Regions from separate parts of the Homo sapiens genome. Here region 2 is linked to region 1. Evidence: fine-mapped expression QTL. Tissue or cell type: whole blood. Region 1 holds a variant in brackets; the other region holds the start of a gene. All regions are shown on one strand. Distances are between the middles of the regions.

Region 1 (8,100 bases):
ACCACCCTGCCCTCAATAATTTCTTTTTCTTCGAGACAGGGTCTCACTCTGTCACCCAAGCTGGAGTGCAGTGGTGCAATCTTGACTCACTGCAGCCTCAACCTCCCAGGCTCATGTGATCCTCCCACCTCAGCCTCCTGAGTAACTGGGATTACAGGTATGCACCAACACCCCTGGCTAATTTTTGTTTTTTTTTTTGTAGAGACAGGGTTTTGCCATGCTTCCCAGGCTGGTCTCGAACTCCTGGGCTCAAGAAATTATCCCACCACAGCCTCTCAAAGTGCTGGGATTACAGGCATGTGCCACTGTGCCTGGCCCCTCAATAATTTCTTAAAGGAAATTACCACATGAGAATTTACACAATGGACACTGAACATCATTCAAACAGGAAATGTAGACTTTAAGGCAGGAAGTATTATTAGAAATAAAAACGAATTTTTTATGACAAAAAGATCAAAACAGAGATAATAAAATTTAAAATATATATGCATGCCTTGCTTCAAATATAGGATCCAAAAGTTGACAGAGTTAAAAGGAGAAATGGGCACAGCCATGGGAGGTGTGAGAAGGGAGCCAGTGGGAAAGCAAAAGACTGAAGAACAAGGAGACTGGGGTGGGGAGTAAGAAGCAAAGAAGGACCTGGGCTTGGCTGGTCCTCCAAGGGACCCAGGGACCCGGTCCAATCATGGACTGAGGACATGGGCTCAGGAGGTGGACTGAGGCCCCCGGAGAGAGCGGCAGGGTGGGAGGTGTAACCTGCACAGCATGGAGCAGTGGGAGCCTGGGGTTCCATCTGGAGACATGGGTTCTAGTCCCACTTGCTGTGTTTTTGGGGCATGTCACTCCATCTCCCTGGGTTCAGCCTCCCCAGGGAAGGACACTCTCTCCACCCTTCCCCAGCCTGGCCCTCACAAACGATGATGCCAAAGCAGTATCCTTCATGTGTGGGGTTAGCGATAGGGCCGCTGGCCAGAGAGAAGATAGAGGCAGGGCCTCTGGCATTGTGTGGAGCCTGGATCTTGCTCTGCAGTCTGGGAGAACCCTGGGCATGGGAGGAAGAGCCAAGAAACCTCTCAGGCTGGATGACAGCCTCTGGGGGCTCACACCGTCCTCTACCCTAGGAGAGGCCAGGGCAAGGTGTGCACCCTGCTGCTGTGCACCTTCTCCTTGTCCTCCTCTGAGGCCTCAGGCAGTCGCCCAGTTGGGTCACTCTTCACCAGGGTTAGGCCTGGCACCTTGGCATGGAGGGCCAGCTCTTGCCCACAGGCTCTAGAGGCCCTGAGGGTCACCAGGGCCCTTCCCCCTCCCGTGACAGCTTGCACAGGATGCTGTCTTTGGAAAGGTGGTTAGGGACTCACACCTTACAGAAGAGGAACCAGAAGCTTGGAAAAGATGACTGTTCCTAGGTGGTCAGTGCCAGGGCCTGGCCAAAGCCCACTTCTCAAGCTCCAAGTCCATGGGGTGTTCCACCAGAACATCATTCCCCATTGAGCAGAGCCTCTGCCTGTCCCCAATGCTACACACACACTTCAAACATATACATCAAACACACAGACACACACACACACAGAGTTCTGCTGCCTCCACTCCAGTCAGCAACCTGGGCTGGGCGCAGGCGCGAGGGTTTGTCTCTGCGTGGGGGCTTGGGAGTGCCCCACACACATTTCTTTGGGTGTAGAGAACCAGGCGTCCTGCCCCTCCCCCAGCTCCGGATGGGTCTGTGCCTGGCCCTGCTGACTTCTGCCCTGAGATGAAGCTGTAGACACAGCCTGTAGTGTGGAGTCTTCCTTGGGTCCCTATTTGCACACCCAGCATCCCACCCAACCTGGAGATAAGGTGAAGAGGCCCAGTCAGCCCCCAAAATTTGGTGTTTCCAAGGTCCTTCAGGTGGACAGTGCAGCACCGCCCAAGGAGCACTAGGGCATGGAGTGCGGTGGAAAATTCTGCAAGCCAGGGGGCTGGAAACCAAGTACTGCTATGGCCGTGACCTTGTGGCCTTGAATGACAAAGCACCTGCTAGGTGCCTCCCAGGACAGCAGGTCCTCAGGCCAGAGGCAGTTTTCTGCCCACTTCTTCACCACTCAGCAGTCCAGAGGCTGCCCTGCCATTCAGGCTCCCCTGCCCTCTGGCTTTCAGGTGGCTTGGCCAACGGGACGGGCTGGCAGGAGTCTGGGCAGTGGGGAGGAACAAGAGGCCAGGGTAATTATTCCCCCAGCATCCTCCCTCTGAAGCTTCCACCTTTAGCCACAGCCCCACTGGTCCTGATGACTACTCTGTCCCTACCCCTAGAGCCCAGGACTGGTAACAGCTGTGCTTCACCATCCCTTATTGGCTTCCCAGAGCCTGCAGCTCTGTAAGTAGTCCCCTCATTAAACTCTCTTCCAGCTGCATCTTTCCTGGTACATGCTGTCAGTTTCCTGCCAGGAGCTGGACTGATCCAGCACTTGATAAATGTTTCTTCATTAAATCCTGCCAGGTGCCAGCTTGGGATCCAACCCCATGACACAGAGTGGCTCCTGCCACATGCCAGAATGTCCCTGCCCTTCTCTCCAGAGGCCCAGTCAGTGAGAGGAGGAGGAACTAGAATCCAGGTCTCCTGCCTCCCAGAGCAAGGCTCCTGTCACTCCACTCCCTGGGGCTTCTTGGGCCTGAGATCTTGAGGCAAGTCTGGTGGTGGAGGAGGTCTTGAGCAAGACAGGCTTGAATCCTCTCTTCCTGGTGGCACCCATTCACTAGGGCAGCAGGTGCCCCAGCAGCACCAACTCACCAGCATGGGTGGAGGGGCCAGGTTAGCAGGTTCCCAGGCACCTGCAGCGTCAGCCAGCATGCAGCTCCTGGCTTCCCACGGGCGCCACTGACTCAGCAGTCAGAGGCTGTGGGTAACACTGCTGCCCCCTTTGCCAGCTTATAGGTGACAGAGGCTTCTATAGTCACTCACCGCTGGATAACTACTCCCCTTTTTGTCCTTCACACACTTTCATAATCAATCCCTTATATTTAAATTCCTTCCATTGGAAACACCTAGAGTGGTTTCTGGTTTTTTGTTGTTGTTGTTGTTGTTTTCTTTTTGAGACAGAGTCTCATTCTGCTGCTCAGGCTGGAGTGTGGTGGCATAATCTCAGCTCAGGCTGGAGTGTGGTGGCATAATCTCAGCTCAGGCTGGAGTGTGGTGGCATAATCTCAGCTCACTGAAACCTCTGCCTCCCAGGTTCAAGTGATTTTCCTTCCTCAGCCTCCCCAGTAGCTGGGATCACAGGTGCACACAATCACACCCGGCTAATTTCTGTATTTTCAGTAGAGATGGGGTTTCACCATGTTGATCAGGGTGGTCTCGAACTCCTGACCTCAAGTGATCCACCCACCTTGGCCTCCCAAAGTGCTGGGATTACAGGTGTGAGCCACTGTGCCCGGCTGTTTTCTTGACTAGTCACTCACTGTTATCTCAACTATGTCCTAAGACATAGCTCACCCTAAAACCAGAATTCACGTTAAAGACAGGGTAAGATTACTCACTAAGCTCCAGCACTACTGAATTCCACTGTTGTGATTTCTCTCTCTCTTTTTTTGAAGAGACAGGGTCTCACTGTCACCCAGTCTGGAGTGGAGTGGCATAATCTTTCACTGCAGCCTCAAACTCCTGGAGTCCAGCAATCCTCCCACCTCAACCTCTTAAATAGCTGAGACTACAGATGTGTGCTACCATGCCCAGCTAATTTTTAAACAGTTTTCGTAAAGATGGGGTCTGGCTATCTTGCCCAGGCTTGCAATTTATAGAGCTCCAGACACCCTCATTGGTAGCTGCTTCTGATAAATTCCACACTATGGC[C/T]AGAAGATGGCAGCAAACCACCAGCTTCAGCCACTTACCTGTGGCCCAGGACACCGGACCAGGTTTCCAAAATCTGAGCTTCACATTCCTAGACCTCCAGAGGTTCTCTTCATGGCCACCTGGACAACTGGCAAACCATTCTGTTTCCTTACACGTGCACATATCATCCAGATAACTGAAACTCTTATCAATAAAACCCCAACATCACAACCAGGGCATAAATTCTCTTTCAAACATCATGGTGATATCCTTATCTTAGATTTTTGGTAAACATTTGGAATTGGATAAACCATCATCCTTAATTAAGACAGAGAACACTTTTTTTTTTTTTTTTTTGAGATGGAGTTTTGCTCGTCACCCAGGCTGGAGTGCAGTGGCGCGATCTCGACTCAGTGCAACCTCCGCCTCCCGGGTTCAAGCGATTCTCCTGTCTCAGCCTCCTGAGTAGCTGGGATGAGAGGCGCCCGCCACCACACCTGGCTAATTTTTTGTATTTTTAGAAGAGACGGGGTTTTGCCATGTTGGGCAGGCTGGTCTCAAACTCCTGACCTCAGATGATCCGCCTGCCTCGGCCTCCCAAAGTGTTGGGATTACAGGGGTGAGCCACTGCGCCTGGCCGACAGAACACTTTTAAAGAGAGATCCATAAAACATCGCCAGTCAGCTGACCTAGGTAGTTTGGGGTGTATTTGTTCTTCAATGTGGCATCCTTAGGGAACCTGGTGGAGGAAACACATGCATCAGCAGCCATTGGTGCCAAGCAGAACACAGCTAGGTTCCCTGTATCCCCCAGCACCACCCAGAGTCACCTGTTGGCACTGGCCAGTGGGATCCAGGTCCTGACCATTTGGAAGGTTTCAGGTGGCTTCTAAGAATTCCAACATTCATCAGCATAAATTCAGCTGTTATCTTAATTAGCACGATTATTTCAGTATCAGAAAATTAATAAAAATATAGAACTCCTGGGTCATGTAACCATTTGGACAATTATTCCAACTTTTAAGTTGGTGAAAACGCTTTTTAATAAAGCACATCACTCCATAAAACGCCTTAAGGAGCCCCGGGTGGTAATGAGAAACAAAGGCCCTTTGTATGCTAACAGGTTTGTGAAAAATGTAATAATGAGGGCACACTTTCGTTGCAGTCTTAATAAAAATTAGGAAAAGATTGATCAAACTGAATTACAAATGTTCTATGCTGAAATTGTGGTCATGACCCAAGTTAAGCGATCACAAATTCTTGCTGGTGTTGGAATCTCCATTCTTGGTCATGGTTTGGAGTGAAGACAGAATTTCCTATCTTCTTGTGCCAGGTTTTTCTTCTCTATGTCTGTTATTATAACAATGTTCTGTGGCGGCTGAGCCATGACTCAGTGAGTGACTCAAAGCACGTTCAGTACTCACCCCTCCCGCGGGCACGTGCCCAGGCTTGCAGGCACATGGCCCCCCTCTCCCGGGAGCCTTCACCTACCCCTAAAACCTGCAGGGGCCTGAACCTGGAACAGAGAGGCCTCTGGAACAGAGGCATGGCTCTGTCGAGGTCTGTGGTGCTGACCAAGGCTGCTTCCCTCTGTGTCTGCTTGAAGTCCACCCTCAAGTGGATTTCCCATCCACCCTGCTCCCAGAGATGGTCAAGATGGAGACCCATTCCATGGTCTCCAACGGGAAAAGTCAGGACCATTCTGGGTGGCTATGAAAACCTGGCCAGAGCATCCAAGCTCACATGCTCCCAAATGATGGCACCTGGCTGCTGACCTGACTGTGGTCCCCACATCCGGCAGAAATGGGAAAGAAGGGACAATGGAGCCACAGCGAAGAATAGCAGCTATGACTACCCCCGGCACAGACAAGACCAACATGGCTCCTTAGGGACAAGGACTTTGTGGATTGTAGGGGCAACCCTACAGTGGATGGCTTTATTTAGGGCCAAAAAAAGGCAGGGGATAGGAGTCCTCCTGGAATTCTATCAGTCTGTCTCTCTCTAAACACTCAATGAAGACCTCGAGGGGAGGTTGTGGTCTCTGTGCCAGACGAGAGGAAATGCTAAGGGTCACTGGGTTATGGAGGATAAGCAGAGGGCCAAAGGGATGATCCCTCTGAAGGCCTCAAGGCTGAAGGGCCTTCCTCTCATCTGCCAGGCAGAGCTGCCACCCTATCTCTTCTGTTCCATGGGGGGCTGGCCTTCTGCTAAGGCCGAGGGTGGTCTCAAGTCAAGAGGAGTATCAACCCCCTGCCCTACAGACCCAACTAGCAACATGAGACCAGATAAGACAGTCTCCAAGCTCACCTCCAGGTACAAATCAGGAAGAACCATATAAGGCGGCCTTCATGGAGGCAGACAGTTTAGGAGCCGGCCCTAGGATGCCCTGATTTGGAAGGCAACACAGAAACCCTAAGTCCAGGAACAGGACCATGGAAAATGGCCCTCGAGACCCCCTCTGCCTAGAGTTGCCTGTAATTATGTCATCCTTTCCTAGTCCCTTTCAAGATAAATAGAACATGAGTGGAGAAGTGAGAATACGCAAACTGCAGATAAAGCAGGCCCCCTTGAAGAGACTGTAGACCCCTCTATCTCGGTCACCCGCCCTGCCCCAGATGGGGTTCTTCCTTCACGGAAGCTTTGACCCCACCAGACCCTGCCCAGGCGTCAAGGAGAGCCTCAGCCAGCCCTGCAGTCTGGGATATGATGGGGAACCATGAGACTCCCCAAGAGTATAGATACCACCTCCCCCTGGTACCTGCTGGGCATAGCTGCCGTCCTCCTAGTAGCCAGGGGCTAGGCCGGGCTCACACATCAGACTCAGTGCAGTGTGTTATCCTTTAATGAAAAGCTGGGTCAATGGAGTCACCACTCTCCCCAAGACCCCCCTGCAGCAGATAGCCCTCACCATGGCTACCTATGAGGCAGGGCAGCCCTGTGGCAGCCAGCCCTGCTGAGGGGTCAGTTTGTAGTGGCCTAGGAGAGGCGTTCAACTCTTAGACCTAGGATGTGGCAGCAGCAACAAGGCCAGAGGCAGCTCAACTGAGGTCAGGGATGGTGGAGGAGGCAGACAGGAAGCATGGGGCTCTCCTCCTTCCTCTCCGAATCCCAGTGTGGCCAAGGCCAGTGTTCAGGAACAGTACAGTCTCCCCAGGGGCCTGGAGTCTCTTCCAGCCACTCTCTGGAAGCCCTTAGTCCCCAACTCCCTGCAGACCGGTGTCACAGGGTCGCTGGACTCGGGGAGCAGGCTGGGTACTACCCCATGAGCCTTGAGGCCCCGGGTCTAGGAGGTGGATCCAGCAGGGCCGAGGCCAGAGCCACCAGGAGACTGGGAGTCACCTTCCACTAACTCTGCTTGTCAGTCACTACAGGCACCTAAGAAGGTGGCCTCTCCTCCGAGCTTCCAGGGCTGCCCAGGCCAGGCTGAAGCAACAGCAGGCCGTGGCTCCTGGGTTCCTATAGATCTGTGACCTTGTTTTCCACAGCAGCTGCAATCTGCTGGAGCCGATAGCCCAGCTGCATCTTCTGGGCCGTGCCATCCTCCTCCAGGGCAGTGATGATCTGAAACAGAGACCAATGCCATCAGGGGAGACTTCTTTGGCCAACGTGTTTGCTGCAAAATTCAACAGCCCTCCTAAGACGCTGTGGCATGAGTGGGGTAGGAGGCCAAGAAACCCAGCCGGTCACTTCACGTACTTTCTGGGACCTCAGGGCCTCGCTGGCGGGAGGGGTAATAACATCAAAGTCACCGCGGGGTTCCAGGATGAATAAGGTAGGAAATGAAGGACCTGACTCAGTAGCGAGCTCCTCAGAAGCCCTGCTGCAGCCATCCTGGCTAACCCACCCGCCAGCCAACAGTATTTCCCAAGTTCCTGTCTGCCCGGTGCCAGACAAGGGGCAGAGACCCAAGAATGACCAGACACGTGGTGGGAAAACAGACACTGATCAAACACGAACCACGAATTTGGGGCTGCCACCAAGGGAACCGGTAGGAACCGGAGGGCAGCAGCACTTGGGAAAACAGCTACTGCCCACTATGTCTCCACAAGGGGACATGCCTGCATCACACCCTGCCTCCCCCAAGCCCCGTGCCATGGCCCACACCATGCCGAGGAAGGCTGTGGGCCATGAGACAGGTTCCTCATCTCTGAGCAGCAATAGCCATGTCACTGGTGCCACACAAACATCTAAGTGGACTATTCCACCAGGCATCCAGCAGGTTGACTGGCAGGTGCTCAGCTCTTCAGGCACAGCCCAGGGATCCTCCAAAAAGCTTCACCAGCTCCAGTGTACCCT
Region 2 (8,100 bases), 28 kb after region 1:
TAACCACAGAACCAACAGGCCTGAGAGATGGGAAGAGGTTCCAGCTCGGAGGGGTGGGGCCTGAAGGGCTGCCCCCCACCTCCGAGAGCCCTCAGAATAGGTAGGAGTCATGCTGCTCCTAGATATCTAGTGTGAGGTCAGGCTCACCTGGCAGGGCCGGCTGGATCAGGAGACAACAGCATGACCCGTGTGGGAGTCACCTAGCAGGCGGGAAAGCCGAGTGTGAAGCCGGGGCCTGGGCTGCAGGCACGTGGAAGCCCTGGGCTCCCCACCGGGGAGGCAGCACAGAAGCACCCCCTCCCCACCGCCCAGCCTGCTGGTGGAGCTGGGCCCAGCCTGGCCCCTGGCCACCAAACACATTCCACAGAGGACGCCTCCTCAGAGCCCACATGAGGAGGGGGAGGGCAGCAGAGCCAGGCACCCGAGGGGCCTGGGAAAGGTCAGCTAGGAAGGAGCCCCGTGGCTGGCAGGGCCCAGCCAGGCCCCCAGCATGGCCTTCTCCCTGTGAGGTCCCTCTCTCTGCTCAAACTCCACCCTGTAAAGGCACCCAGGTACACACCCTCTACACAGCCAGGGGCTGTCCCAGCCCAAAGGGCCACCAGCGCTTCAGCAGACAGGCAGTCGCACAGCAAGATACATACACACCACCCACCCTGTATGTATATGCCTACAACACACACACACACACACACACACACACACAGAGAGAGAGAGATGCAGATGCCATCTATACACACAGCACAGTGACACACACAGACACAGCCACCCATGTTCAAACACCACATGAAGACACATCCATATAGAGACAACTCCCCCACACAGAAACACACTGCAGGCACATATGTCACACTCACCCGAGACATTCAGACCACCACTCACATTTAGACATACACACGCACACTCAGGCACACTCCCCTCGTTTGAGAGTACTTAGTTGGAGCCCTACGTACTAGAGAGCTGTAGAAGCTAGGCCATCTCTTGCTATTTCCTCTCCTGCAGTTCAGAATAGTGCCAGGGCCCAAGATGTGGGGTAAGTGGAGTGTGTCCTGGAGGAAGGTGCCATGCCTGGCTGTTCCCAGGCCCATCCCCAGGACCTCCCCAGACTTTGGGTGCCTGCTTTCCACACAGACCCCTTCTTGGGCCCCAGCTGAGGCTCCTGAGTCCCTGAACCAAGAAACTATGGCAATACCACCTTCCCCAGTGGTCTCTAGCCAGGAGCACCAAGGTTGGTGAAGTGCTGGGACAGACAATGCATCTCAGACTGGGAGACACTTCCCCTACTTGCCTGTGCCCAGGCCACGTTGCCCAGCCCCTCCCATCACCCAGCTGCCAAGCTGTCTGTGCAAAATATCCCAAGCGTTTGCTTCTCCCAGGTCGGCTCATCCTAGCAGATGAGGCCTGAGCAGGGTACTCCTGAGGCTGCCCTGAAGTGAACAGGGCCGGGCACAAGGCTCAGGGGAGGGTCCAGCAGCCTGGTGGAAGCCGGGACACTGTGGCCACAGCCCGGTGGGAGCAGGGGGGCCGTGGTCACAGCCTGGCTGGGCACTGCTCCCGAAATAGCTTGGGGGTTTCCATTTTTAGTGTGCAGAAAACAGGGCAGCTCTATGGGAGCAGGAACAAGGCTGCCTCTGTTAGCCACCCAAGGGGGCGGGGGGAAGGGGGCAGCAGGGAAAGTCTCGAACCCGGCCAGGATCCCAGGACTGTGGCAAGACCAGGCTGCCCAAGAGCCCCCCACCTAGTTTCCAAGGGATGAGGAAAGAAAGTTTCTTCCCATGGGAAGACAGAGTCCACCTGAGGATGGGCAGAGGCCACCTCTTGCAAGGGGCTACTGTTCAATTCTCCTGCCACCGCATGCCAGGGATGGGCCTTGGGCACAGGGTCCCATAGTTAGACCAATACTCACTCCTACATGCTTACAAATATTTGCTCAGAGCCTACTGCGTGCCAAAGTTCTCCAGCCCTCAAGGGGCAGTAACAAAACCACTCCCCATATGTGAAATCAAAACTGCATTGATGCATGACAGAGCCTTGGGAGATGAAAAAATGGTTAAAAACAAAAACAAAAAAAAAACACTGGATGAGGAGACAACAGGAAGAAATGGGCGGGATCAGAACAGCTCCTGGCCAGGCCACTGAGGAGGTCGGCCGCTGACCCACTCCAGGGAAAGTGGTCAGGCTTCTGCCAGCAGTCTCCCTGTGAATCAGGACCTAGCACCCCTTGCCCCTCCACACATACCATGGGTGTCGGAAGGAGGACAGAAAGAAGAGCAGTGACTTTTTCTCCTCCATTTCAGGCACATGGATTTCACTTAATCTCTGCCACAGGCCACTGAGCAGCTCCCAGCCCCTCCAATCTAGCCTCCCAACTCCCAACTTCTCAGGACTTTCCTTGAGCAGAATTGAGTACACCCCTCCCCCAAGAGCCTCTGGGGCACCCCAGAGCGGGAGGGATAAAGGCCTACCCCTCCAGTCCACACCTCTCCCACCCGATCCATGCCAGTGCTCCCCCACACATGCCCTTCGTTCCTGCCAGCCTGAACTGCAGGCTGCTTGGCTCCTCCAACCGCTGCACAGGCTCTTGCCGCTGCCTGGAATGCCCACTCCCTCGCTATCCCATTAACTCCTACACCAACCATCCTCTCCCTGGGGAGCCTCCCCTGTCCTCCCAGGCTCCTGAGGAGGCCGCTGCATGCGGTGGACAGAATGGACACACCTAGCCACCACCCTGACAGGCACGGCCGCTCTGCCTCAGGCTTTCCGAGCCTCAGATTTCCTAGTTGTACAATGGGAGGCAGGATTGCTCTGACCAGTAAACATGAAACAGTGTGTGCCTGGCATTAGTGATGCCAACCAGGGTCACCTTTCTCCCTGTTCCACCCTCCTACTCTGGACTTGAAGCTCCTTGAAGGCAGGGAGTATGGCTTCTGATTCAGAGGCCCCAGCAACTTACACAGACTTCAGCACAGACCAGATGCTCCCTGTATGGTGAACGAACCCCCATTTCACACCCAAGAAAACCCAACAAGTAGGGGAGATAGGGGGCCCACAATCCCTCCAAGCCACTTGGTCTCTCAAAGGGAACACATTGGCCCCACTTTTATTAATGACCAGGCCAGGGCAGACTGAAAAGGCTGATCTAGAACCAGACCTCACATCCCCAACTTACACAGCCAGGATCTCCTGCCCATTCCCAATATCTGAGGCCCTGCTCAGACTCACAGCCAAAGCCTAACTCTGCCTGTGCCCAGTGCTCCCCCACACATGCCCTGGAGTCTCTTCTGGGGCCACCCTACTCTGAACCTTTTCAGGGGGCGCAAGACTGCCCAACTTCTGTCTGTAGAGCAAGCACCTCCCGGACCCCCGTGGAGCTGTCCTCGACAACAAAAGGGGCTCACAAACCCCGCCATTCCGCACCTGCAGAGGGGCCATAGGACAGCCCACATTTGCCTTGCCTGCCAGTTAGTGGGAAACCGGCCTTCCCGTTTCACCCTCCTGCTCAGCTCCCAGGGTTCACTACAGAGGTGAGTTATTCATTGACAGTGCAGTGGTGCCCGCTGCCCGCCCTGTTTTCTGTGTGTTGAGGAGGGGTGGGGAGATCCACCATTTACCAGGCACCTGCGATGACCCAAGGCGCTCATCGATCACCCACTTAATATGTCTGTGTGTGGAGAGGAGGGTCCCCCCCACCCGCCCGGGGGTCAGGAGGCTCGAGGTCCGCCTTTGTCAGTCCCACCGGGAGCAGCCAGAAAGGGCTGTTACTACTGAGGGGAAGCCCCGACCTCCCCACTCGGCTCGTCCTTGACCCTCCCCAACCCCCAGACCCCGAGGCGAGGACCCCATCACTGGCCCTGGGAGGGCGGGGAAGGGGCCGGCCGGTCCCCGGCGGCGACGGCGAGGAGGGGGCGCGGAGGAGCAGCTCCACCTCCTCAGTCTCCCAATCGCGTTCCAGGCGGAGTCGCCAGAGTTTCCCTTCGCGCGGAGAAGTGTGGTCCCAACTCTCAAAACCAAAGCCGCCCACCACTCACCCAGGCCGCCCCTGCCCGGCGGGATCGGGGCCCCGGCCCGTTCCACCTCGGGAGCCCCGTTCCTCGCCGCCCTGGCCCCGAGCCCCGCACTCACCACCCGGCCGGGCCCCGCGGGATGTGCGCGCCGAGGCGGGCGTCGGCCGCTCCGGGCTCGGGCTCCGCGCGCAGCGGCCTCTCCCCGGGTCTGGCGGAGCCGCAGCTGTTACCCGGAGACCGAGGGGCGGAAAACTGCGCCCGCTGCCCGCCCCTCCCGCGCGGCGCTGCCACCGCCGGGAACAAAGGAGACAAAGCCGCGTCGGCCGGGCTCGTCTCCGCTCCTTCCCCCTCGCCTGCCGGGCTGCCCTCCCCCCGCCCGCCGCCCGGGCCAGGCCGGAAGCAGCCCGGAGAGCCGGGCGCGCGGCCCCGAACCGCCCGGGACCCCGCATTCCAGCCCCGCGGGCTCCGCATCGGCCGAGGGCTGGGGACCCGACCCCTCCCGCACGGGGGAGGGCGGGGGCGGGCTGCACCGCGGCGGTCGCCATGGCAACGCGGGTCGCCCGGAGGGGTGAGGAGTGAACCCCGGGAGCCAGAGCCGCCCCGCCCCGTCGGCCTCACCTGCTCGCCTCCTTGGAACCGGAACTGGGAACTTTCCTGGTTGCCAGGAGCCGAGGCGGGGGGTCGCGCTCCGCACCCGCAGGTGCTGGTGGAACAGCGTCCCGGCCTCTTCCCGCCCGTCCAGAGCCGGGTAGCACCCGAGTCCCTCACCAGCCCGACCCGTTCTTCTGCCAGCGCCCGGCCTCGCCCCGCGCCCGGAGCTCCCTTTCCCTTCCTTACCCGGCTCCGGTGGTCATCCTCCCCAACTTTCTTTACCTGAACTCCAAGGCGCCTTGTTTCTCCCCTGCGCACCTGGCCCTGCCCACCGCCCCTGCTCACCGCCCCTGCTCCCACTACTCCCCAACAGCCAATCCCTCCTTCCGGCCCCCACCTCTGGCTGTTTGAGAAGAGCATGGGCTTTGGACCTGGGCTTGCGCCATCAACTAAACCATGTAACCTGACACCAACCCCCCCCAGCCTATTTGCTCACCAGTAAGTGGGGGTGATCCCACCTCTAGCGGGGCTGTGAAGGCAGGGAACCTGGGCTGCAGAGGCGCACAAGCAAGGGCTCACTTCCTTCCTTTCTTCCCAGCCCAGGACCCAGACCTGGACCCACCCCAAGCTGAGAAGCGTTGGGCAAGTCTGGGCTCCCTCACTGGCAAACACCTGGGCCTTCTGCGGGAGGAAACGCTGGCAGAAAGGTTCTCTCCTGGGGACCATTTGTACCCTGTGCAGGGCCCTTCACACCCTGGCATGCCCACGGCTAACTCAGGACCAGAACCTGGCCCATCCTATTAGGACTTTTGGAGGACTTTGGCTCAAAGCCATTGGCACAGCTTCCTGGGAGGCAAAAACGTCACAGGCATCATCTGAAAGCCTCCAAGGCCTCCACAGGCTAGGGGAGCCTCAATCAGGAGGTTCAGGTCATCCACACTGGCTACTGCCCTAGAGCTAGAGACACCCTCTTCCCACCTCCCACCAGCTATCAAGGGTCTCCTGTCAGGTCACCCCTTTTCCTCCACTCCCACTTCCAGCACCTGAGTCCAGGTGCTTAGCACCTTGTCTGCACCAGCATAGCAATCCCTCCCTGGATCCCTCACCCTTAGCCTCTGACCTCAGACTGCCAACCTGGCACCCCGGGCCTGTGACATCATTCTGCACAACTCCCCCACACCCATCACCACCCCAGCCAGGACAGTCTGCCCCAGTCCCTCACCCACTTTGGCTTTCCTGCCTATGTAGCTTGTAGCAGCCCCCTCCACATGCACAGAATCCCTCCCTCCCCAAATCCATTCATCCAAGCACACACTTCAGGACCTATCTCACCCCAGAGGAAACTGGGACTTCCAAACCCCACAACCCCTTTCATCTGTACACAGATACGCTACCTCCTGCCCTACAAGGAATGTGAACACTCTAAGCACAGGGGTCTTTCCATCCCATGCCATTCTGGGGAGCCATTACTCGCCAAGGATAGATTGACTGAGGGACCAGGTGCTGAGAACCTGGGGTGGGGGGCATTTGGGCCATGCTCACTGCCCAAGACTGAACACAGGCTCCAAGAAGAAAGTATGCCTTATGGGAAACACTCCTGACTCCACAGGCTCTGAGAGCTCTGCACAGGCACCAGTGAACGAGTCCCCACCTGCGGCCCCCCTGCATATAGCTACCCTGCGCTCTCAAAGGGGAGTGGGTTCTCTGGAATGTGCCTGACTTCCAATACTCCAACACCAGGACTGAATACCAGCCCAAAGCTCCTGTTTACTCAGGGCACACAAGGCCACCCATGGCCATTTAGTCAAGGTCAAGGGTCACTGTTCCCCTCTGAAAAGAGATCATACATATGCCCCACTGCACCTCCCACCTGTGGGAGACCCCCCCCTCCCTATCACTGCCTCTCCATGCACACTCCCGGTGTCCTGAGCTCTGCCTATGCCTGTGGAAGATATCCCCGGGCTGTGTGGGGGTGTGCACCCAGCCCCCGTGGCACACCACTGCTGCCCAAAGCAATCTCTGTACCAGGGATCCAGACTGGCCACCAATCCCTATACTTATGTCCCCAGCAACATTTATCAACCATTCTCCCAATCTCCCTTCCCTGCTCTCCTCTGATCACTCCTCCAGTACTAGAACCAGGAAGTTCTCCCCCACATGGTAGAGAAAGTGATCCAGGAGATGGGAAGCAACCATGGTCACGAAATGAGTAGGCAGCAGGCTAGGTTCCACTCACTGGAACTCCCAGGCCATCTGACACCGGACAGTCAGGTAACTGGAGGAAATCCAAAATGAAAATCTAGGCCTCAGGAGTGCATCCATAACAGTTCAGAAAAGAGGACAGAGAGGAGATGAGAGAGGAACTAAAGGGGGTGACTACCCCAACTCCAGGCCCAACCTTCAAGTCTTGGATCTTGATTCTTAATGAAAAAAACTCAGTCTGATTGTTTTAAATAATAAAACTCAGGATATTTTAATTGGACATTAGCACAAAGTTTTGATAATTAATGTAAATGAACCTTGTCTACAAAGCGAAGCATGCCTGCTGGTGAGCCACACAGATACTGCTCCTTCAGATTGAGGTTGTACATGCCCCCAAAGGCTCGCTTCATTGCTACGATTCTCTACTTAAATCCACATTCACAGCTATTGCCTCAGACCCTCTGGAGGAGGGGCCAGGGGTTAGCTGGCTTTGAATAGCATGTAGAGCACAGGCAGTGTGGCCACAAATGTCACACAGGTGACCAGGGTGCTATAGATGGTGTTCCTGTTGACTTGGGCTTCTAGTCTCTGCTCCGTGTCTGACAGTGCCAAGATCATGCTCCCCTGCTCCAGCAAGAAGCTGGGCATAGCCCCGTCTGCTGGTTCCACCAGGCCTGGGTGTGCTGCAGACTTTACAAGCTGAACCACCCCAGCCATTTGGCTACAAGTCTTTTCTAGGCCATCAAGCTGCTCTCGTAAGCCTTCTAGACATGAATGGACTTGCCTGGAATGACTAAGCTGCTCTTTCAAGGCAGCTGAAAGGACATCTACATCTCTGTCTCTGGTCGGGGGACTACCTGCCTGTGACCCAGAGTCCTGCCCTGGCCCAGCAGCATGTACCAGGCCCCTCAGGTCCACCATGAGATTGTGGAGGTCCCTCTGCTGGCGGGAGTAGCTAGACGCCTGTTCTCGAATGGCCTCTTGGAGACTCACAGGCCCCTTCTGCGCCTCCAGGAGTAAAGCCTTCAGCTCCTGTAGTCGCACACGGTTCACATAGGTGGAGCCAGCCACACCAATCAGGGCCCCCAGGACTGAGCCAATGAGGGACCAGTTCTTGGTCCTCTCAGCCCTTGTGCGCTCCTTCTCATGACTTTCCCGCACAGCTGCAGAGAAGAGGGAGAACTTCTCTCGCTCAGAGTCTTCTGCACGCAGATAGGCTGTGCGAAGCCTCTTCTCCTCCTGCAGAAGCAAAGCCATGTTATTGGATTACATGGGCACAAGGTGGCCCTGCAGCTATAGCCACCAG

Evidence for each region. PIP is the estimated chance that this variant, and not a neighbour inherited with it, causes the effect.
Region 2: PLXNB1 starts here. The variant in region 1 is fine-mapped to the expression of PLXNB1 in whole blood (TOPMed, PIP 0.99).

Annotation. Positions count from the first base shown.
Region 1 is chr3:48,397,226-48,405,325 of GRCh38, forward strand. It overlaps PLXNB1 (plexin B1), which reads right to left. Exons shown (of 38, transcript NM_001130082.3): 38 at 6,629-7,365. The coding sequence ends at 7,261. Among named protein-coding and RNA genes, the nearest start is that of PLXNB1, 29 kb to the right of the region's middle. The variant C/T (reference allele first, on the strand shown) is at 3,827.
Region 2 is chr3:48,425,134-48,433,233 of GRCh38, forward strand. PLXNB1 (plexin B1) reads right to left here and starts at 4,953. Exons shown (of 38, transcript NM_001130082.3): 1 at 4,875-4,953; 2 at 148-200. CCDC51 (coiled-coil domain containing 51) reads right to left here. Exons shown (of 4, transcript NM_001256964.2): 4 at 7,040-8,033. The coding sequence ends at 7,275. RefSeq lists silencers at 3,907-3,986, 4,067-4,666 and enhancers at 4,907-5,900, 7,254-8,100, 7,570-7,619.